3 linked regions of the Homo sapiens genome follow. The protein of the gene in region 3 interacts with the protein of the main gene of each other region in a pairwise test. Each region holds a gene or a part of one and is shown on either strand. Other genes may lie near its edges.

Evidence for each region. The genes of interacting proteins can lie anywhere in the genome.
Region 1: the proteins of TRIB3 (region 3) and PKNOX2 interact in binary tests that used the Homo sapiens proteins (3 or more experiments, as listed by UniProt).
Region 2: the proteins of TRIB3 (region 3) and PCSK5 interact in binary tests that used the Homo sapiens proteins (3 or more experiments, as listed by UniProt).

Annotation. Positions count from the first base shown.
Region 1 is NC_000011.10:125,426,741-125,433,769, reverse strand, and holds the end of PKNOX2 (homeobox protein PKNOX2), read right to left. Parts: intron 4,759-7,029; coding exon 4,682-4,758; intron 3,808-4,681; coding exon 3,629-3,807; intron 2,605-3,628; coding exon 2,378-2,604; 3' UTR 381-2,377; downstream 1-380.
Region 2 is NC_000009.12:75,893,663-75,900,691, reverse strand, and holds part of PCSK5 (proprotein convertase subtilisin/kexin type 5 isoform 3 precursor), read right to left. Parts: intron 1-7,029. UniProt on the Homo sapiens protein: Serine endoprotease that processes various proproteins by cleavage at paired basic amino acids, recognizing the RXXX[KR]R consensus motif. Likely functions in the constitutive and regulated secretory pathways.
Region 3 is NC_000020.11:390,734-397,762, reverse strand, and holds the end of TRIB3 (tribbles homolog 3), read right to left. Parts: intron 6,477-7,029; coding exon 6,184-6,476; intron 1,566-6,183; coding exon 1,073-1,565; 3' UTR 204-1,072; downstream 1-203. UniProt on the Homo sapiens protein: Inactive protein kinase which acts as a regulator of the integrated stress response (ISR), a process for adaptation to various stress. Inhibits the transcriptional activity of DDIT3/CHOP and is involved in DDIT3/CHOP-dependent cell death during ER stress.

The DNA.
Region 1 (7,029 bases), on a different chromosome or scaffold from region 3:
GATCCCTGGGATTCAAGGCCGGGAATGGAGACAGGAAAGCAAAAGCCTTTGAGGGAGGTGGAGTATGGTGGACAAGAGGGACCAGATTCATAGCTTCCGCTGCGGTCGGGGAAGCTGTCAGGAGAGGGCAGTGCAGAGCTTCCTTGCCTTCTCTCCCTAGCTCTGCCTTACAACCGGCCGCACACAAGGTGAGTGTGCTGAAATTGGCTCTTCCTCCCCAGACAGGGCAGCTGAGCTCACGCAGGACGCACATCTACCTTGTCCCCTTCCCTGGGTAGTCAGGTGTATACTGAGGCCTCCAAATTTTGTCTGGCCTCTGGTCCCATGAAAAGAGCAAAGGATTGCCACAGCAACCACAGAAAGAGAATTGTGCACCAGGGTTACGGTAGGTAATAAGATTTACTGAAAACGTCTCGGCCACATTCAGTACTGGTTTGGTGGATACATCAGAAGGAGGTTGCATAACATTAGGCAGGTGGAGGGGCTGAGAGGAAGAGATGTGGGCACCTGTGTGCCAGTGTGTCCGTGCTGGGGGACGCCTGTCCAGGTGGTGAGTGGAACGGTGTGTGTGTGTGTCTGTGTGCGCGTGTTAACAAGAAAAACGAACCAGAAAAGGAAATGCATTTTATCCCACTGCACATTGCAAAAGTCTCACGCCAAAAAAGCTAGACTTTCCTCTATGTATGGCATCAAAAGGGAGTAAAAAATGATTGGATCACCCAGATTATAAATAAGGTTATTTGTTTCTCAAAAATCCTTATTAAAACATTAAATATCAGCTCTTTTGGGGGAGAAATACATTCATTTCAGGGAGACCTCGGAAGAGTGACCATCCTTTTGCTCTACCCCAACCAGGTGGGGGAGGGGAAGCCCCAGAGGGCCCAAGGGGTCCCCTCCAGTTGAGCCAGGTAGCCACTCACATCCTGCCACTGAAGGAGGTGGCCAATGCACAATTTACAAATGAAACTGCACGTCCATTAAATTAAACCCAATGGAAAACACACGTGTGACCTGTCCTGTCATTCACAGCCATGGGGTGAGAGGGAACCGGAGGAGAGGGTGCCAACCAAGGGGGTCTGGAAGGTGGGTGGGAGGGTATGTGTTAGGGTGGACAGTGGAGAGCCTCCTCCTCCTTCCAGGAGCCCCAGTTCCTCCAGGGCTGTGGATAGCAGGGTTAGAACAGCTGGGTGGGGTGTGTGGGATGGGCATCCCCGCAGGCTCTTGGGTGCCATTCTCTGGGCCCTCCCCCACATTTAGGATATTGATGGGAAGAGGGATGTAGCACCTTCTCCAACCCCTGGCTTCCCACTGGACTAGATGCTTTCCAATGTTTCTTCTGCCTTCCCTGAAGGACAGAATGAAGAAAGGAAGCTGGAGGCTGATGGAGCCAGGCTGGGAGCAAAGGGATGGCCGTGGCGACCTGCGGGCTGGAAAGATTCCCAGATAACCTGGTTTCACCTTCTCTGAAGGTCTATGGAGGGCGTGGAGCACTGAAGGTGGGAACATCTAGGGTAAAAAACCATTGTCCTGTTGTTAAAGGAGCTAAGTTCTGTGATCACCTAGGGACAGCTGTGGCCTCAAAGTCACCTCCATATGGTTCCTAGCCCAGGGTCTGCCATCTCCTTGGCTCTTGGAGTCAACCCAGAAGGGACTCCTCTTAACCTCCCACAGGTTGAGCCCACCAGCTTACAGTTGGTTTCCAGGAGAGAGTGAAGGGCACTGTGGCTCCCATCCCTTTCTCCCATGTCCATGGTTGCTGTGCGCAGAGACAGGGCCTTGGAGGGATGAGCTGGAGCCTGGTGGATTCCATCCCATTCTGATCTGCAAGATGTGATGCCTCAGGCCCTCCCACTCCTCTGGCCACTGGTTATGCTTTGGGGCTCCCTCCTGCCCTTGAATGTCTGTCAAAGGAGCTGAGAAACTTCTGGGGATGAAACTCAGTCCCCCTTTGTCTCTCCCCTTCCTTCTAAGTCTGCCCCCGGGCAAAGGCCTACTCTGCGAACAGCACCAATCTGCCTCAGTGCAGGGCTTGTAAACAACTCAAGTCCTTCCGTGGGTGGGGGCCATGGGTGCCATCTATCCTCAGGGATTTGGTGAGTCCAGATCTCACTCCTGTCTTTCCACACAGGCTGCTCGACTGGCCCCGCCAAACAGAGTCCTCGGCAGTTCCAGGGAAGTGGGGCTGGGGTCCTCATTGAAGCTCGGTGGTTGGGAAGGAACAGGTGTCTCCTTTGCCTTTCTTCAAGCTACTGATTTGGGGAAGCTAGGGCCCAACTCCCTCGGTGCTTCCTGCCCATGTCCCCTTCCCCCCCACCCTGAAGGCCTCCCGGCGACACTCCTCTCCTGCTCAGTGATCAGTGCCATCTGGGCTGCCCGACTACTCCAGGGAGTCACTGTGTTCCAAGCCCAGGTCGCTGACATTTGTCGTCTGCAGCTCGTCGACCTCCTCCTCCAGCTCCTCCTCCTCCTCCTCTTCCATCTCATCCTCATCCTCTTCTTCTGTCCCATCCAATGAGTCATCGTGTGCAGCCATCATAGCCTGCTGCATGGCCATGGTGGCACTGTCTGAGGACAGGGACTGCAGGTTGTCCAAGTTGATGGAACCTGCGAGAGAAAGCAAGGGTCAGGACGAGGCAGGGGCTGCTGGTCAGGGCCAGCACCTCTGTGTTGGACAGGGTTTAATGGACTGGCTCATAGAGCAGTGAACTCCTTGTTTTTAGAGCTGTCCAAGCCTGAGCTGGACAATGCCCTGGTATGAAGTCTCCCATCCATTCACTAGTCAGCTACTCCCTGCCCCATCTCAGGAAGCAGCACTCCCAGCCACCGTTCACTGCACATTTTCTTTATGTGTTGGCCACTTTTGACTTTCTAACAATTCTGTAAGGCAGGTATTATTATCCCCATTCTGTCTCAGACAGTTAAGTCATTAGCTCAAGATGACATTGTCAGCGATGACAGAGTTGGAATTTTCTCCCAGGCTGGTCCAGCCCCCTAAATCTGTTTTTTTTTTTCCCATCATAACCCATAAGATGGCTCATCACAAAGGAACCTGTGCACAACCATACACATACACGTGTGCATGAGGTTATGTGTGCACACACGCACACCTACGCTCCACTCCCCATACAGAGCTATCTTCATATGCCAAGCTATAAAATGCTTGGCTCATTGAATTATTCATTGTGCACTAGGCGACTGGCAATTAGAAAAGTGTATATGGAGGGTGTGATGGAGAGGCTGGGAAAACAGAGCTCTTCCTGGCCCCTGTTCACGAGCCAGCTGCCTGCCTTGATATTTATAGATGGCCTTGGCTCCTGAAGAGCTGTGCAGATACTTACTGGTGCTAAGGAACTCAGATGGGTGCGGACATGGGGGGCTCTGCTGAGCAGTCACTGACTTGCGTGACCACCAACTCCCGCTTTTCTTTATGAGAGTGCATCTGGTCTGTTAAATTATGTACAAAAACATCCCCTTCTTTAGGGCTTTGGGGAGGGATAATCACTGTGGCATGGCAGCGATGGGAGCCCAGGTAAGGAGATAGCCCTTGAATCTTTGCACGGCTTGACCTGAAGAAGCTCCAGGAGCACCCCCAGCCCTTGTCTAGGGTGCACTCAGCCCCAGTTCTTACCATCGGGGTTTGTCCCTGGGGCACCGCCCTGCTGCTGCAGCACCCCCGCAGCGATGGAGTTGGGCCAGAATCTTTGGGTGGGCCGGTGCTGAGACTTGATCTTCTTGGCTTTGGGGGCAGGATCTGGGTTGCTGGCATCAAGCATGGGCTGCAGGATGCGCCTCCGGGCATTGATGAACCTGCCCAGAGGTAAAGTGGAGACCTGGTTAGTCATCACCTGCATGGCCTTGGGGTGGGGGCAGGGAGGGTGAAGCTGCCTTCAGACTCCATTTCACAGAGCAGACCGGGGTTCCCATCCCGGATGTAAAAGCCCAGCAAGGAGGAGGGCCCTGGGTGCTGAGAAGTTCATGAAATTTCCTGGGGCTTGGTAACTGCAAAGTCATATGGGAAGAATGCATGGGGGGTCAGAAATCCCTGCTCAAGACCTTCCAGGTTGAACGGAGGAGGAGAGCATGGTAGTCATAGGCACTAACCTCTGACTTCTCTCCAGAGAGCCAAGGGCTCGGATCAGGGCCCTCAGCTCTGGGGTCTACTTCCATCCAGCCAGACCTTGCTCTCTGAGCTCCCCTGACAGCCCAGCCAGGCACAGAGACTGGGAAAGCTGAGATCCCTGTGGGGTCAGAATGGCTACTCCTCCTCCCTCTCCCCACTCCCAGCTTTGCAGCTAGTTTTAGTCTCAGTTCACATGGGGGTGGGGAAGACCAGATGACCACTGGCCTCCGGTGCACAGCTGCGGGCAATCCTGTCTGTCTCTGAAGTGCAGGTGGGCTGGGTGCTCAGGTGGGCGTGGGTTTTCTCTTCCTCAAGAAGCTTCCAGGGATGTGCCTGACACAATGTCCCAGCAGAGGGCGCTGAGAAGCTGCAGATGAAGCCACAGGTGCCAGTGTTGATTCTTGCTTTCTGCTTCTAGCCTAAATGGGGGGACTGGCATGGTAGCTGGGCTGAGATTGAGGCAGATCCTGGCATTCGAGTCTCTTTTCCCTGCTACGCATTCCCCTGCCCAGAAGGTGGCCCCTGGATCTGGGAGCCTGCATGCAGGTGATGCAAACTCACCAGTTGTTTACTTGCAGGAGGGTGAGGTTGGTCTGGGCTGCGATCTGCCTCTTCTCATCCTCCGTGGGGTAGGGGTGCTGAAACGAGAGGTGGAGACTAGTGAGGGCTGGGCATATGCTGATCTGGCCCCCCCAAGGGACTGTGCCCACGCCATGGGCACTATCCTGAGCCAGGCAGCCCGAGTGGTTTGGGAACCAAAATTGGGGAAGTGTCATGTTTGCTCCCCACAGAGAATGGACCTAGGGCTTGGAGGAAGGTTGCCCCATGCCCGAGACTCCACATCCCGGGCTGGCCAGTCCTCAGCCAAGCCCCCACAATGGGGAGCCAGGGAGGTTTCCCAAGACCAAGATGGTTCAGTACTGACAGCTTCCAAGGCACATCCTTCTCACTTGATCCTCACTGCCGCCCCCAGCAGGCAGGGCAGGCATTGTCAGTGTTAGGGTTTCCAATGGCCTCAAACGCCCATAGAAGGTGGTAGGCGGGGTGAATGGATCAATTTAAGTTAACTGCTATTTACTGAATATCTACTATGTGCCCAGATTTATGCTAGGCATGGCTAGGAGACAGAAGAGTACTACTTGTATAGTGCTTTATAACCTGTAAAATGCTTTCATGCATTTTATTCATTAAAAAATCATCATTTTATTTAATAAAGCACATCATTGAAACTCTGAAAGGCAGGCAGGTTAGGTATTGTTATTCCCACTTTGCAGATGAAGAGATGGAATGACTCCTCCAGTGTCCCCCAGATGGTAGCACCAGCTCAGGTCTTCCGATTTGGGTCCAGTCTTTCTTCCATTGCTTCATGATGCCACTTTATAGGACTGAGTGGAGGTGAGAAAGAGAGCAGGGCAGGTGTCTCTCTCAGTCCCCCACATGCTGCAGCCCGTGCACTGACTACGCATCTGTCTCCCTCTCTCAGACTGTGCTTCATGACGGCACTGGGATACTGAATGTATCCCCAGTGCCTTCCACATACAAATGACATACAAATGCCTGCTGAGTGAAGGAAAGCAAAAGCACAGCACTCAATGCTGTGGTTTGGGTGATGAGCCCTGTAGAGGCTAAGAAGGAGAGAAATGCAGTGGTGGGGAAGACTGAACAGGTCACATTAAAGAATGAGAAGGCTCTGGGTGGCAGTGGGAAGAGAGTCGTGACCCCATTGGGAGGGAGGCCACAGGATGGCTGAGTCTATGCATCCCTAGGACTTGTTCAGGCCACAGCCCTGTGCCTGGCACCCAGCATGCAATTAAGGTGTGGCGAACGTCTGAATAAGTCAGAGTTTTGTCCTGGAAGCTAGGGGAGGTTTGGGGGCTCTTATGGCAGAAGATCAAGCCATCCAGCATCCTCAGGCTAAAATCATTCCTTTTGATTGGAGTGGTATTAGAAAGTGGTGCTTGAGCTGTCTAAGGTCCCCGAGATGGGAGGTCTCAAAATCTGGCTCTATTATGACTAGCTATGAAATCTCAGGCACGTCACCTAACTACACATCAGCAAGTCATCTGACAAATAAATGAAATTATACTTGTAAAATGCTCAATAAAAGGTACGAATACTCTTATTATCAGGGGGTGTTACAAGGTGCTTAGAACTTTCTGAGGGAAAAGGCTGCGGTCAGCAGCCTTGGTGGTACTCGCATTATCGGTGGAAAAGGAGGAGCAGCCTCTCCCCTACCTCAGCATCCCCCAGATGAAGCCATCAGGACCATGTGTTGCTTTAATTCAAACCTCTGACCCTGACCACCATGCCAAGGCAGCTGGGACTTGTGATTCATACGGTATTAAGATTCTAACAAGAAAGTAGGCACATCAGCATTACAGGAGCCAATTTTCATTCTAATTGGGAAGGAGCGGAGGCAGGATGGGAGGAGAGGGTGCAGATGGCCCCAGGGGGCAGAGAGGCAAGGACTCTGGGAGCTCTGACACCTTCTGGGGTCAAGCCCTAGTGCCTGGCTCCAACCTCCCTATTTGTGGGAAAGAGCCAAGCAGCCTCCCTGTCCATAGCCAGCTGGTCTGTAGACAAAAAGCAGCAAAAATATGGTGATTTTTTGGCCTTCCCAGGTGCAAGGGCCTTTCATGCCTCCATGCCTTCGCACGTGCTGGCCCTCCTCTGGAGCGCGCTTCCTCCTGCCTGTCCTCGCGTGCCTTTCTGAGCTTCTGTGAGGGCCTGCCACAGATCACAGCCTCTGCAAGGCCCTTCCCGACTCCCTGAGGCAAAGCTGGTCACCGTGGCCTCTGAATGATTGCTTTTCGCCCACTAGATGGCAAGACATGTGTCCCCCACTAGGCCATGAGCTTCTCTCAGGCAGGGACCCCATCTCATTAGACATTGTTTATTTCCAGTGTGCA
Region 2 (7,029 bases), on a different chromosome or scaffold from region 3:
TTTTTTTTTTTTTGAGACAGAGTCTCGCTCCGTCACCCAGGCTGGAGTGCAGTGGCATGATCTCGGCTCACTGATGCCTCAGCCTCCCGGGCTCAAGCAACTGTCCCACCTCAGCCTCCCGGGTAGCTGCAACTACAAGCACAGACCACCACACCTGGCTAATTTTTGTATTTTTAGTAGAGACAGGGTTTCACCATGTTACCCAGGCTGGTCTTGATCTCCTGGCCTCAAGAGATCCAGCTCCCTCAGCCTCCCAAAGTGCTGGGATTACAGGCATGAGCCTCTTCACCTGGCCAAAAAAATTTTAAACAAGATATAATAACTCTCATTTACAGAGTATTTGTGTGTCAGATACTATTCTAGCTACTTTTAACTCATCCTCACAACAATTGTATGCGGGGATCACTCTTGTTATTATATCCCTTACACACATGAAGAAACTGAGGAACAGAGAGCTTAAGACACTTATCTAGGGTCCTCCAGCTAGGAAGGAGCAGTATTAGGTTTCAAACCCTTTTAATTCTAAACCTATGATCCTAACTACTCCAGCACATTGGCAAGAAAGAGATGAAGGGAGCGAATGGAGGCTGGCAGGTGGATAGAAGCAGATGTCCAATGAAAAACTGTTGTACTCCGTTTCTCTACTGCCCCACAACCTGACTTCCACTCCACTATTCAATCAAGCATTGGTGCTAAGAGCACTGGAAGCCTCCTTATCACTTTACACACATCCTCCTGGATTCTTTCTATAGCACTTCTCACTACTGCACACCATCTAAAGGAGGCACCCTTTCTTCTGGTGGCTCTCTCCATCTTCCTGGCCCCTTCATCTACTCCCGTTCTCCCTCGCTCCCTAAGTGGAGACATTCTTTTCTCTGCCTTTTCTTCTCAGTGCCCCTCTCTTCATGCTTCATCTCTTAACAATCCTAAGCCCTTCCACAAGCTTCCTTTATACTGAGGTTGATGATGAGTGCTAATTTATACTTCTTTCCCAACCTAAATGCTCTTCCACCTACTAGACATTTCTATAAGCATGTCCTTCTATCTTCTAACAAAAAGAATGCTGATGATCCCGCTTATATGTGGAATTTAGGGGAGAAAATGTTGATTACATAGAAACAGAGTGTAACAGTGACTACCGGGGTGAGGAGAGGGAGGAGGGAGATGTAGGTCAAAGGGTACAAACTCACAGTTATGTAGGATGAATTTGTCTAGAGATGGAATGTGCAGCAGGAGTACTAGGGATAAACAACATAATAATACTGTGTTGTTTATTGACTATTTGCTAAGAGACTAGATTTCAGGTGCCCTTACCACAAAAAGGAGGGGTAATTATGGAAGACAATAAATATGTAAATTTGCTTACCTGTAATAATCATTTCACTATGTATATGTATATCAAAATATCATGTTGTATACCTTAAGTATAAACTAATGCTGAGCCTATTCTTTTGTTCTCAAAATGATCCTGCAGACTGTCCTAATTCTACACAACAGTCCACCATTCTCCTGGTCCCAAGGCTAAAACTTTACAGCTATCTTCACATTCTCCCTCCTCCTCATCCCCTACTTCCATTTAGTTACCAAGCCCTATTGAATCATCCTCTACAAGAACTTCCAAATCTTTCCATTGTCATGGCTCCTGTTTCCATTACCAATAATCATTGCCAACACAATAACCACTCTGCCATTATGCATTCAGTTCATTGTGCACACTGCTACCAGCAGACTCTCCCAAGGCGTGACTGAACCATACTATACTACCCAGAAGTCCATTACTATTTGTCTTACTAAATGATAATTATAGGTGAAAATGTTCTAGCTTCTCAAGAACAGAGAATGTTTTCTGATCTGTATGTTACATGGTAGACTTGTGCTGGTAGAATCAGTGGGTTGTTGTCTCTCCTTCTCAGAGATCCTCAATATAAACTTCAATATAAACTTATCCAAAATAATAAGGTTGAAACTCTCTAGCCTAGGCATTTAGGGCCTATAAAACCTGATCTCTAGTGGGTTTTTTTTTTTTTTCTTATCCCACATCTCTTTTCTCTTATTCTAGTAACAGCATCCCACTTTCCTTTGGGGAACTGTCCCTACCCAACTGGTGGACTGCCCATCAAAGGTCAACATCTCCCTTTGAGGGAGGACATGTGACCCAAGCTCACCCATCAAAATACTGCTACCCTCCTAGACAAAGTGATTGGCCCACATGTGGGGATACGACCCCAGTCAACGATCAGGAGTCTTTTTCAGGTGTTAATTTCAATACTGGATAAGAAAGGTACTAAGCAGCATATGAACTTTGCTGCTTACTAGAAAGCACCTTCTGAGGGAAAAGGAGAAACAGCTGACATTAGCACTACCTCTGGCTTTTCAGCTGGACAGGCCCACAATCATTTTTTTGAAACTCTTGGATTTAAATATGTTTCAGAACTCAGAATTATTCAGGTGAGAATAGCACAATGAGGCACATACTTGAGTATATTACATACACCTCTGTCTGGATCAAGGACAACATCACTGCAATCAAATTCAATTCATATTTCTGCAATGAAACAAACTAAGGGCCTAATTAATGTCAGTTTAGGTCAGGGTAGGTTTTGCCATGAAGAAAGTGCAGATCAGGTAAGGTCTGATTACAAAAAGTGTTCAGCTGTTTTCAGAAAGGCATATAAAGGCATGTGAATCTGTTTAAACTAACAAATTCCCAGTACGCTTATCTGCTTGTTTGTTAGTTTTAAGCAGTTTGGGGTTGATTTTTGACACTTGTACCTGAAAAAGGTCCCATCTATATTCCTCATGGGCCTATTATGTGTCAGTTTTACTTCCCACTAGTCTTCTATACAGACTCACACTGGAGTCAAACTAAAAGACTAAGTTTTGATACTTTAAATAGAAAATCTTGCCTCGTCCCAGTGGCTCACACCTGTAATCCCTTAGGAACACCAAGGCAGGTGGATCACTTGAGATCAGGAGTTGGAGACAAGCCTGGTAACATGGTGAAACCCCGTCTCTACTAAAAATACAAAAATTAGCCAGGTGTGGTGGTGCTTGCCTGTAATCCCAGTTCCTAGGGAGGCTGAGGCAGGAGAATCACTTGTGCCTAGGAGGCAGCGGTTGCAGCGAGCTGAGATTGTGCCACTGCACTCCAGCCTGGGCCAAAAAGCAAGACTCCGTTTCGGGAAAAAAAAAAAAAAAAAAAGAAAAGAAAGAAAATCTTGCAACCTCCATAGAGTATATGTCTTATAAACAAGGGCTGTCCAACAGGAGATGGGAGCCTTAGCTGGCTGGTTTTCTTGTCAGTTGCCCCCTCCCCTGTCCTGTCTCCATGGCTCTTGGGGGAAAAGTGTAGCTATCACATCATCCTATGGGAGAATCAGGCACAACACTTATTCCTCTTCCTTTCAGCCCCCATTATATCCCCAGGGACAATCACAAGAATCTGGAAAATTACTGTATGTTGTTATTCTCTTCTGAGTGCCTGTGCATCTCTTAGGTGTCTTTAAAGATCATATAATGCTCCCTATGCCTTATTTTAGCTAATACACACTCATCTTCACTATTAGGTCACCTGATTTTCACAGCAACTCTATGAGGTGGATGGAGTAGGTATTATGGCTCCCTATCTGAAAAATGAGGAACTGAGGGTCAGGTTGGTTGATAAAAGTAAAGACCCTGGAATTTCACTCAAACCTGACTCTTAGTCTTGTTTTCTTTCCGATCTAATTTTACTCTCAGGATGAACTCAAATTGGAGAGTTTATTGGTATTGATTGTTCCTCCTTGGTACCCTTTGATGTAGAGATGGATAATCTGTTGAAACTAGTGAGAACACTCATGAGTAATTTTACTCTAAACTATGTGCAAACTTTATTCTGGTAAAAATAAAAATTGACATATATATGCTGTGCATATGTACATATATTACACACATACATATCTGTGTATATATCATATATAAGTATATGTGTATATATGTGTGTGTGTGTGTATTCTAGCATGCATTAATGTCTATAAGCATTTATTTTTACCAGCCAGGAAGCTAAAGTCAGCTTTTCTGTCATTGATCACAACCTGAATTAAATGAATAAAAAAGTCCCAATGCAGAGCAATGCCTGGAGATACTTCAGCCTTGGTAAAAACCAGACACTGCTTCACATAACTTGAACCGACAACAAAAATATCCCTCCCTGCCCAGGGGATATTTCTGGGTCAGGACTCCCTCTCTCAGCCAAAGAGTCAGACATTGCTGAAAATTTTCTCACTGTACTACCCTGTTTCTCTGGCTGACCTTTAAGGTTAGGACCTCTGGATGTAAGCCCATGAAAGACAGTGATAAGGCAAAGTCAGCTGCCTTTAGGCTCACAAAAATGCAGTTTTTCACTTCAAATAGACCCCGAAATCCCCAATGACCACATACAAACCATTCCTTATCTATGAGGTTAATGCAGCAGACACGCCATCACCAGACCATGCACTCTGAATTGTTTTTTCCAGCAAAGGTTCCCCTACTATCCCTTCATTTGCCTCATCATAAGAAATATGCATATGAGAGTGGCTAGCAGGGGTCAGGGCTGAGGATCTTGAGCATGAAGAGTTGCCCTGTGCAAAGCCAGATATATCACACAGAGACCAATCTGGGACTACAGCACCAACTAACTCTCCTGTTTATAAAATGCCTAAGAATTTATTAGGCAAGCACAATCCACTCCCATACAACCCATCAGACTAACCACATCCCCTATTTCCAGGACTATCCATAAGCACCCAGAATTCACTGCCCATGTGAATCAACATTTCAAGCGTCCTATAATATCCACAGCTCAAAATTAATCAGCAGGGTGGGAGGTGTTCAGGACATCTCTGAACAAAGTTCTCCCTGCGAATGTATCTCTTCCTACCTACTTGGAAAATGCTTCTTCTAGCTTTACTCATACAAACTACACTCAGAATAAAAAATAAAATGTAAATGCGAATATGATTTAACAAAATTTTTCAGGTTATTTTTCCTCCCTTTTGTCCATCCGCAGTATGCTTATCCTGTAACATTTCATGGCCTATGACTAGGATGAATGAGGGAAGAGGGCCCTGCCATGGGAAATCAATCCTAATTGTTTAGAATCTAACATAAAACTATTTTTAAACTATTAATATTTTAAATTACTCACTGAAAGGGAAAATCATTTTCCCTGCCTACAAAGCTATGATATGGTTCTTACAATTCAATCTTCAAAAATATATTTTCCTGATCTTCACATTTCGCATCTCCATTTTTAAAATGTCTTCCTTTCTCCTTATCTAAAACTTTGGATCTCAATTATTTTGACCTTTCTCCTCAGATTCAGATTAAACAAACCTTTCGCTGCAAGCCTAACTATGTGCTGAGCAATGCATAGTTAACTCACTCTATTATCTAGAGATTTATCATTTTACAGATGAAGGAACAGAGGCTCCATTAAGTTCAGTGACTTTCCTGCTTTCACAGCCTCGAAAGTGGCCTCTCCAGAGTTTCCAAGTCCACATGCTGTCAATGGGGGGGCTCTAGGTAAAATATTTTTCCAGTATGGCTTGCATTTAGTTTTATCCTTCAGAGGTGTTATTCAAATTGTTATGTGGTTTGGGGAAGGGGCTTTGCTACTGGTAATCTCAGGCTGGAATCAAGGATTATAAGCAACTCACAGAAGGATAAATACAGCTATTGCACATTGTAAACAATCTGTTTGTTCACAAGGGATCTTCTCCCTGAATTCAAATAACCAGACATTAATTCTTCTTTGTAGATTTACTCTAAATGGAGGTCCACAATTAACAACATGTCAGGTCTTATTCCTTTATATCATTTCAATTGCCTAACCAGTAGATTGTTAGCTCAAAGGGTCAGAGCACATGATTAGTGAGGGAGGACAAAGGCTTCTCCCTCTATTCCCGTGCAGGTCAATAGGCATGCACACCTCCTACCCTCGGCCAGCTCAGAAGGTGCTGGTTCCACTAGATACTAAGAGGGCTGGTAGTCAGAACTTGTAGGGAAGAAAAGCAGGGCATTCTGCAGCTGACTCCGATACCAACCAAAAGATAATATATGCTAACATGACAACAACTAACAATGATTATGGTTAAGTATTATTATTGCAGGATTTCAAGGCACAACCATTCACAAAATATAAACATTTTGTGAAAACATATGCTAGCTCTATGAACAAAGGCAAGAAAACCTTCATTTATGTTCCCTTCTGGAAATCAAGCACGTCCTTTTTGCTTGTTTGTTTGCTTTCTTCTTGTGTTACTCTGCACATCCCATCTTTTTTTTAACAGAAGAGGCACAGCTATTATTTTCCATAGAAATGCCCTGGCCAGAAATCTTACCTCTCGTGACTTTCAAATGCTAAGATGCTACACAAAACATTACATTGATATTCTGAGCAAATGGTCAAAACTATACCTTTACTGTGGTGAAAATTTACTACCTTACTCACCTAGAATATCATACCGAAGATATAAAAAATACTACCAGGATAGTAAATGACTGCAGAAATAATAACAAGTTTCAGTTCCAATTTGCAACACGTAAGATGAGACCCCAAGCCCAAATGGGTAAAAAACAGAACATTCCAGACGCATCTGCAAATTAGTTACTGCCCTCAGCTGATCCACAGCTGGTTTACTGATGGAAAGAATAACAAAAGGATGTCTAAAGTGTTGAAAGGTCAGAGCAGTAAAGGATGAATAAGAAATACATTTGGCCTGTACAGTGCAATGATATTGCACGTGTGAACTCCATTTACCACCCCAAAGACTTAGCATAGGCTTAAGCTCCTTTGATCTACAGAGGAAATGCTCTCCACTGTAGAATAGCTGATCTTTTTACACTGGTTCAAGGGGTCCTCTGTAACCTCTATAAGCACTAAATTTCCTCATTGGCGCTGTAAAACCACAATAAATCATCCTTGGTGTTATTTGTATGTAAACTTTCTTAGCATTATTATTTTTAATGAGAAGCCATGAATCTTCACTATAAGGCCTTTTGTAAATA
Region 3 (7,029 bases):
AATAGAGACACTGCTGCTGCCAGAAGAAACAGAAGGAGTGCAGGAAGACCCACTGGGCTCCAGGTAATCTGTTCTCACAAACCACTCAGCCCAGGTTAAGACACAACTCTACGGCCTTTCACCATGGGGGCCAGTTTTGAAGGCAGGAAAAACTGGTAAGAGATCGTTGGAAAGGATGGAAGAAATTGCAGAGAAAAATAAAATTATTTCATAATTCTCCTTTATTAGGCACAGGTAAACATACATACTCATGGTATCCAAAACCTAGAGTATGGACCTGGGATTGTGGACCCCAAGTGTCCCCAGAAGAGTCCCACCTGGGACTTTCCAGGTGGCCACAGGACAGACCCTGCCTAATCCTGTCCCTCAACCTTGGTGCTCAGGTCAGAAGCCCCATGGTTGACAGGCCTGGACCCTCATTCCAGAACAGTCTTGAGTTAGACAAGAACTAGCCTCATAGTTTGGATTCTTATCTCTGGCCCAAATCCCAGGCTTAGGCCTGGAAGGAGAATCTCTTAATCAAGAGGACAGAGATGCTGGGAACACAGTTCCCAGAGTGAGCTGGGCTTGGGTCCTGAGTTGCAGGGGAGAGGCCTGGAGCCTTTGGCACAGGGATACCTCCCTTTCTCTGAAAAGGTACAAGATACAAAGGCAGCTGGTTTGTTTGTGAAAGGGATTGTCCTTGGACAGAGGTGCCTGAGCACCAGCATCAGTGGAGGCCGACACTGGTACAAAGTGTACCCAGTGTAGACAGTGACCTATGGTCATGGAAAAGTGTTGTCAGCTCAAGGATGCCAGTTTGTCATCTCTGTGAGCAGGGAATATTGTCTCCTTTGCTCACTGCTGTACTCCCAGCACCGAGAACAGGGCTTGGCACCTGATAAGCACCCAAGCAGGAACTGCATGTGTGTGGAACAAAGCAGATGTGTACACAGCACACTCCACACAGGCTTCTGCCTTTCTCCCTTCTGGAAGGCACTGAAGGTTTGGCTCAGTTCAGAGGCAGGAGAAGGCTTGGAGCTACCCCCAAACTCAATCCACTGTTGGCAGCTGAGCGTGTAGTAGGGTGGTCCTAGCCATACAGAACCACTTCTCTGTCTCCCTCCTCTTCCCTGGCTTCGTCCAGCCCCAGTCCATCAGGGACCACCTGGGCAGCCTCCCAGAGATGGGATCGGGTTGGGGCTAAGGGCATCGGGTCCTGTCGCAGCCAGGGGTGCAGGAGGATGCCTGTGGCTGTGAGCCGTTCAGCTGGCTCCCGACGAAGGAGGCAGCGAACCAGACAGCGGGCAGGGGCCGAGAGGCCTGCAGGCAAGGCGTAGGCCCCGCGGCGGATCTTGCCGAAGAGCAGGACAGGCTCCGAGTCCTGGAAGGGGTAGTGGCCGGCCAGCATGGTGAAGAGCGCCACGCCCAGGCTCCAGACATCGGCTGCCTTGCCCGAGTATGAGGCCCGTGAGCTGAGTATCTCAGGTCCCACGTAGGCTGGGCACGCGTGCTTGTCCCACAGGGAATCATCTGGCCCAGTCAGCACGCAGGAGTCCTCCAGGTTCTCCAGCACCAGCTTCTTCCTGGGACATGGGGAGAAACAGAAGGGTCAGGTCCTACCCAGAACCCCCATGCCACCACCCCATGCTATCACCCTTGTGGCACCCACTTTCCAAGTGCCTGCTGGCCTTTGACAGACACAAGCCAGTCCTGTGATGTCTGATCCTGTTTTACAGATACCCAAGCCCAGGCTCAGAGAGGTTAAGTCATTTAAGGCCACAGAGCAATTAAATTTAAACTAAAATTCTGAAAGGAATACATTTTTCAACAGAGTCCCTTGGGGAGGGGGCTGATGGGGCTGAGAGGGTTAAGCCTCTCTTAAACCAGCTACAAACTTAGGGTCCAGGCAGGTAATAAGATGAGAGAAACAGGAAGTGTGCCTGACATCTCAGCACAAGCGCTACCTAAAAAGGGTACACAACGCATTCTAGGGTTTACCAAGTGCCTGCTGTGTTCCTGGCCCTTGACCCAGCTCATTACCTGGCTCACCTCATTCTATCTAGGCTACAGCCTGCAAGGAAGACACCATTTTACAGCTGTAGAGCATGGGCCTGGGATGGGAACGCTGGCTGGCAGATACTCAGAGCCAGTGCTGTGACCCACCCTCGCAGTTCCCAAGATGGCCCCACATTCCCATTGTTTTCCCCAAGAGAAGCCAGGAATTGTATTTTAATGAAAAGGTCCCCATTTAAAAAATATTGGCAACCAGTTTATATAAAAAACACAAACAGGTAAGCAGGGCAAAAAAAAAAGTGTGTAAGGCTGGGCGCGGTGGCTCATGCCGGTAATCCTAGCACTTTGGGAGGCCGAGGTAGGGGGATCACTTGAGTTCAGGAGTTCAAGACCAGCCTGGGCAACACGGTAAAAACCTATCTCTACAAAAAATACGAAAATTAGCAGGCATGGTGATTCGCACCTGTAGTCCCAGCTACTTGGGAGGCTGAGGCAGAAGGATATGACTTGAGCCCAGGAGGTGGCGGTTGCAGTGAGCTGAGATCGCGCCACTGCACTCCGGCCTGGGTGACAGAGTGAGACCCTGTCTCAAAAAAAAAAAAAAAGTGTGTCCTGCCATTTGCAATTTCTACTTTAAACAACTTCCACTGAGCACTCAAAGATGACTTTAATAGTAATCATTCTATTACCACTGCTATTAGTTTCTTCTTTATGGCATTACTTCCTGGGTGTCCAGTGGCATTTCACAAATACTGACCAATCCTATGAATCACAGTATTGGGGGACAAGGGGTGTCAGCATTATTAGCCCATTTTACAGATGAAGAAACAAAGGCTCAGGCAGGTGAAGTCATTTGCTCAGGGCCAAAAAGCAGGTAAGAAGCAGAACCCAGGATTTAAACACAGGTCTATCTAACTCACGGTCCCTCTTCTACCAATGACTCTCATGTGATTTTTCTTTTTTTTTTTCTTTTTTTTCTTTAGAGATAGGGTCTCACTCTGCCACCCAGGCTGGAGTGCAGTGGTGCAATCCTAGTTCACTGCAGCCTCAAACTTCTGGGCTCAAGCAATCCTCCTGCCTCAGCCTCCCAAGTAGCTGGGATCACAGGTGTGCATCACCACACCTGGCTAATTTTTATAAATTTTTTGTACAGATGGGGTTTTCTGTGTTGCCTAGGCTGGCCTCGAACTCCTGGGCTCAAGCAGTCCTCCTACTTTGGCTTCCCGAAGCACTGGGATAACAGGTGTGGGCCATCAAGTGACTTCTTGAAAAGAGCAGGAAGCACGCTGTCTCCTCCAGGAGGTCCGGGGTAGTTGTATCTACCCTAAGCCTAAAATGTGTTTGAAGTTATGTACTAGCTTAAACATCATTATAAATGTTACTTCTTTAAAAAAGGCATGCTTGTTCTAATATAAAATGTAGAAGGAAATATTAACAGAAAATCAGCCTTGGGGGCTGGGCGCAGCGGCCCATGCCTATAATCCCAGCACTTTGGGAGGCCAAGGCAGGCGGATTTCGAGACCAGCCTGGCCAACATGGCAAAACCCCATCTCTACTAAAAATACAAAAATTAGCCAAGTGTGGTGGTGTGTGCCTGTAATCCCAGCTGCTCAAGAGGCTGAGGCACGAGAATCACTTGAACCCGGGAGGTGGAGGTTGCAGTGAGCCGAGATCGTGCCACTGCACTCCAACCTGGGCAACAGAGCGAGACTCTGTCTCAAAAAAAAAAAAAAAAGAAAGAAAGAAAAAAAAGAAAAAGAAAATTAGACTTAGGCAAGCACCACAATAATAACTGCTATAGGCAAGATGGATGGCTGCTAAAATTAGTGGGTGAAAGTTGAGGAAAAACAGGATATTTATATGCCTAGCTTACCTCCCCCAAGGTATTTGTCAATTACAAAGGGTAAATTAGGACCTTACAGTAGAGAAACCTGGTAGGTCCTGCCCTAACCAAGTGATCAAGGTCACGACATAGGAATGACTATCAGCTCAAGTATCTCTTGATATGATGTGGAGAGGGGCCTATCGATTCTGTGTTGTTCTTGCCAAAAATACATAACTGCAATCTAACTGTGAGAAAACATCAATCAAATCCAAATTGAGGGACATACAAAGTAACTGATCAGTACTCTTCAAAAGTCTCAAGGTTATGGCCAGGAGCAGTGGCTCACGCCTATAATCCCAGGATTTTGGGAGGCTGAGGCAGGCAGATTGCTTGAGCTCAGGAGTCTGAGACCAGCCTGGGCAACATAGCAAGACCCCATCTCAATTAGCCAGGTGGGGTGGCACACACCTGTAGAACCAACTACTCAGGAGGCTGAGGTGGGAGGATCACTTGAGCCCGGGAGGTTGAGGCTGCAGTGAGCTGTGATCACACCACTGCACTCCAGCCTGGGTGACAGAGTGAGACCCTGTCTCAAAAAAAAAAAAGTGTCAAGGTCATGGGTCTTCAAAGACAGGGAAAGACTGAGGAACTGTCTCAGATTGGAAGAGACCAAGGAAACCACTGATGACTAAATTGGGATCCTCACTGGATCCTGCACAGCAAGGGGTGTTAGTGGGAAACTCGGGAAGTGGGAATCAATCTGTGGCTTAGTTAATAGTTTGGGTAATTGTACCATAGCTACGTCAGGTGTTAACATTGGAGAGCACTGGTTAAAGGATATGCAGAAACTCTTTGAACTATTTTTGTAGGTTTTCTAAAAGTCTAAAATTATTTCAAGATAAAAAGTTTTTTAAAATGCCATGGGGTCACACTCCTTTCTCCACAGAAAACTCCTGTGTAACTGGCAGCTTAGTGCACTCCCTGACACATCTTGACTGCCCCCAGGAATCTGGAGAGGGAACAGGAGGCGAGTCTCTCTGCCCTTCTCCCCAGAATTATCTTTTAAAAATTTTTCTTAGCGTCTAGGCTGGGTGCAGTACCTCACACCTGTAATCCCAGCACTTTGGGAGGCCGAGGCAGGCGGATCACCTAAGGTCAAGAGTTCAAGACCAGCCTGGCCAACATGGCAAAACCCCGTTTCTACTAAACATAGAAAAAATGAGCCAGGCATGGTGGCGCATGCCTGTAGTCCCAGCTATTCGGGAGGCTGAGGCAGGCGTATCACTTGAACCCAGGCAGCAGAGGTTGCAGTGAGCCAAGATCGCGCCATTGCATTCCAGCCTGGGTGACAGAGTGAGACTCTGTCTCAATTAAAAAAAAAAAAATTCTTAGCATCCCAACCTAGAGAAGGAAGATTCTTTTAACCAAAAAGTGCTAATTCTCAGTTTCACAGAAAACGTTCCCGTGTGGGGAACCTCAGACCCTATTTTGGCTGTGGTCTTGGAATCCTGAAAACACCCTAACAATCCAGCCCTTTTCCTTACCAACGGAGAAACTGAGGCTCAGAGACACTAGGTCACCCAAAGTCAGTTGGTAAGCCCAGCCAGGCCCCTGCCTCTCAAGCTCAGATTGAATTAAGACCCAGGCTCTGGAGTCAGATCTAGGTTCAAATCCCAGCTCTACCATTTATTCTGCTATGGGATCTTGGGCAAGTTACTTGAGCTCTCTGGGCCTCAGTTTCCTTGATCATATGGGGATAATAACAGTACCTGCCTCGTGTTTGTAAGGATGGAAGACCACGTTAGATAATGTGGCGATGCTTTCGTCACTGTCGGCTACTATGACTTTCACATCTCAGTGCTCCATCCCAGAATCCCAAGGGGCTCCCAAGAGGACTGAGTCAACTCTTTTTTTTTTTTTTGAGATGGAATCTCACTCTGTTGCCGAGGCTGGAGTGCAGTGGCGTGATCTTGGCTCACTGCAACTTCCGCCTCCCAGGTTCAAGCAGTTCTCCTGCCTCAGCCTTCAGAGTAGCTGGGATTACAGGTGTGCGCCACCACACTAGGCTAATTTTTGTATTTTTAGTAGAGACGGAGTTTCACCATGTTGGCCAGGCTGGTCTCGAACTCCTGACTTCAAGTGATTCACCCACCTCGGCCTCCCAAAGTGCTGGGATTAAAGGCGTGAGCCACTGCACCTGGCCTGAGTCAACTCTTCTCAGGGAACTAAACAGGGGCTGCTGGTTACTTCAGTTTCTCCCACTTCTTGCCTAAGTTACCTTGCCTTCCTGGGCCTCGGTTTCTCTCCATCATGGCCCACCCCCTGGGTGTGTCTGTGGCTGGGGTCTCTGAGACCACACTCACCTCTCACGGTCAGCGAAGACAAAGCGACACAGCTTGAGATCACGCAGGACCAGACCGTGCTGGTGACAGTGCGCCAGGGCGGTGGCCATCTGGCGGAAGAGCACGGCAGCCTCAGGCTCAGGGATACGGTGGCGGCTTCGCACCAGGCTGTGCATGTCCCCATGGGTCCGAGTGAAAAAGGCGTAGAGGAGCTGGGTACCAGCCAGGACCTCAGTGGGCCGAGCCACATGCTTGTGCGGGGGCAGCCGCGCATAGGGCTCCAGCACGGCCAGGGCTTCCTGGACGGGGTACACCTGTGGGCAGAGCATGGTGTTAGCACAGCTGGGGACTCCCGGGAGCTGAGGCTGGCATTGCAAACAGTCACAGCTGACCTATTAGACACTACCATGTGCTAGGCATCGCACCAAGCGCTTCACTGACCGAGTCACTCAGCCCTGACCATGGTCCTATAAGGTAGGATGACTTGCTCCATTTTACGGTTAACGAAGCTGAGAGGCCACACAGCCAGCAAACAGCACGGCTGAGATTTGCACGTATGCACTCCACTGTCTGTGCTTTTTTTTTTTTTTTTTTTTTTTGAGACGGAGTCTCGCTCTGTCACCCAGGCTGGAGCACACTGGCGCAATCTCAGCTCACTGCAAACTCCGCCTCCTGGATTCAAGTGATTCTCCCGCTTCAGCCCCCAGTGTAGCTGGGATTACAGGCATGTGCCACCGCACCTAGCTAATTTTTGTATTTTTAGTAGAGATGGGGTTTCATCATGTTGGCTAAGCTGGTCTCGAACTCCTGACCTCAGGTGATCCTCCCGCCTCAGCCTTCCAAAGGGCTGGGATTACAGGTGTGAGC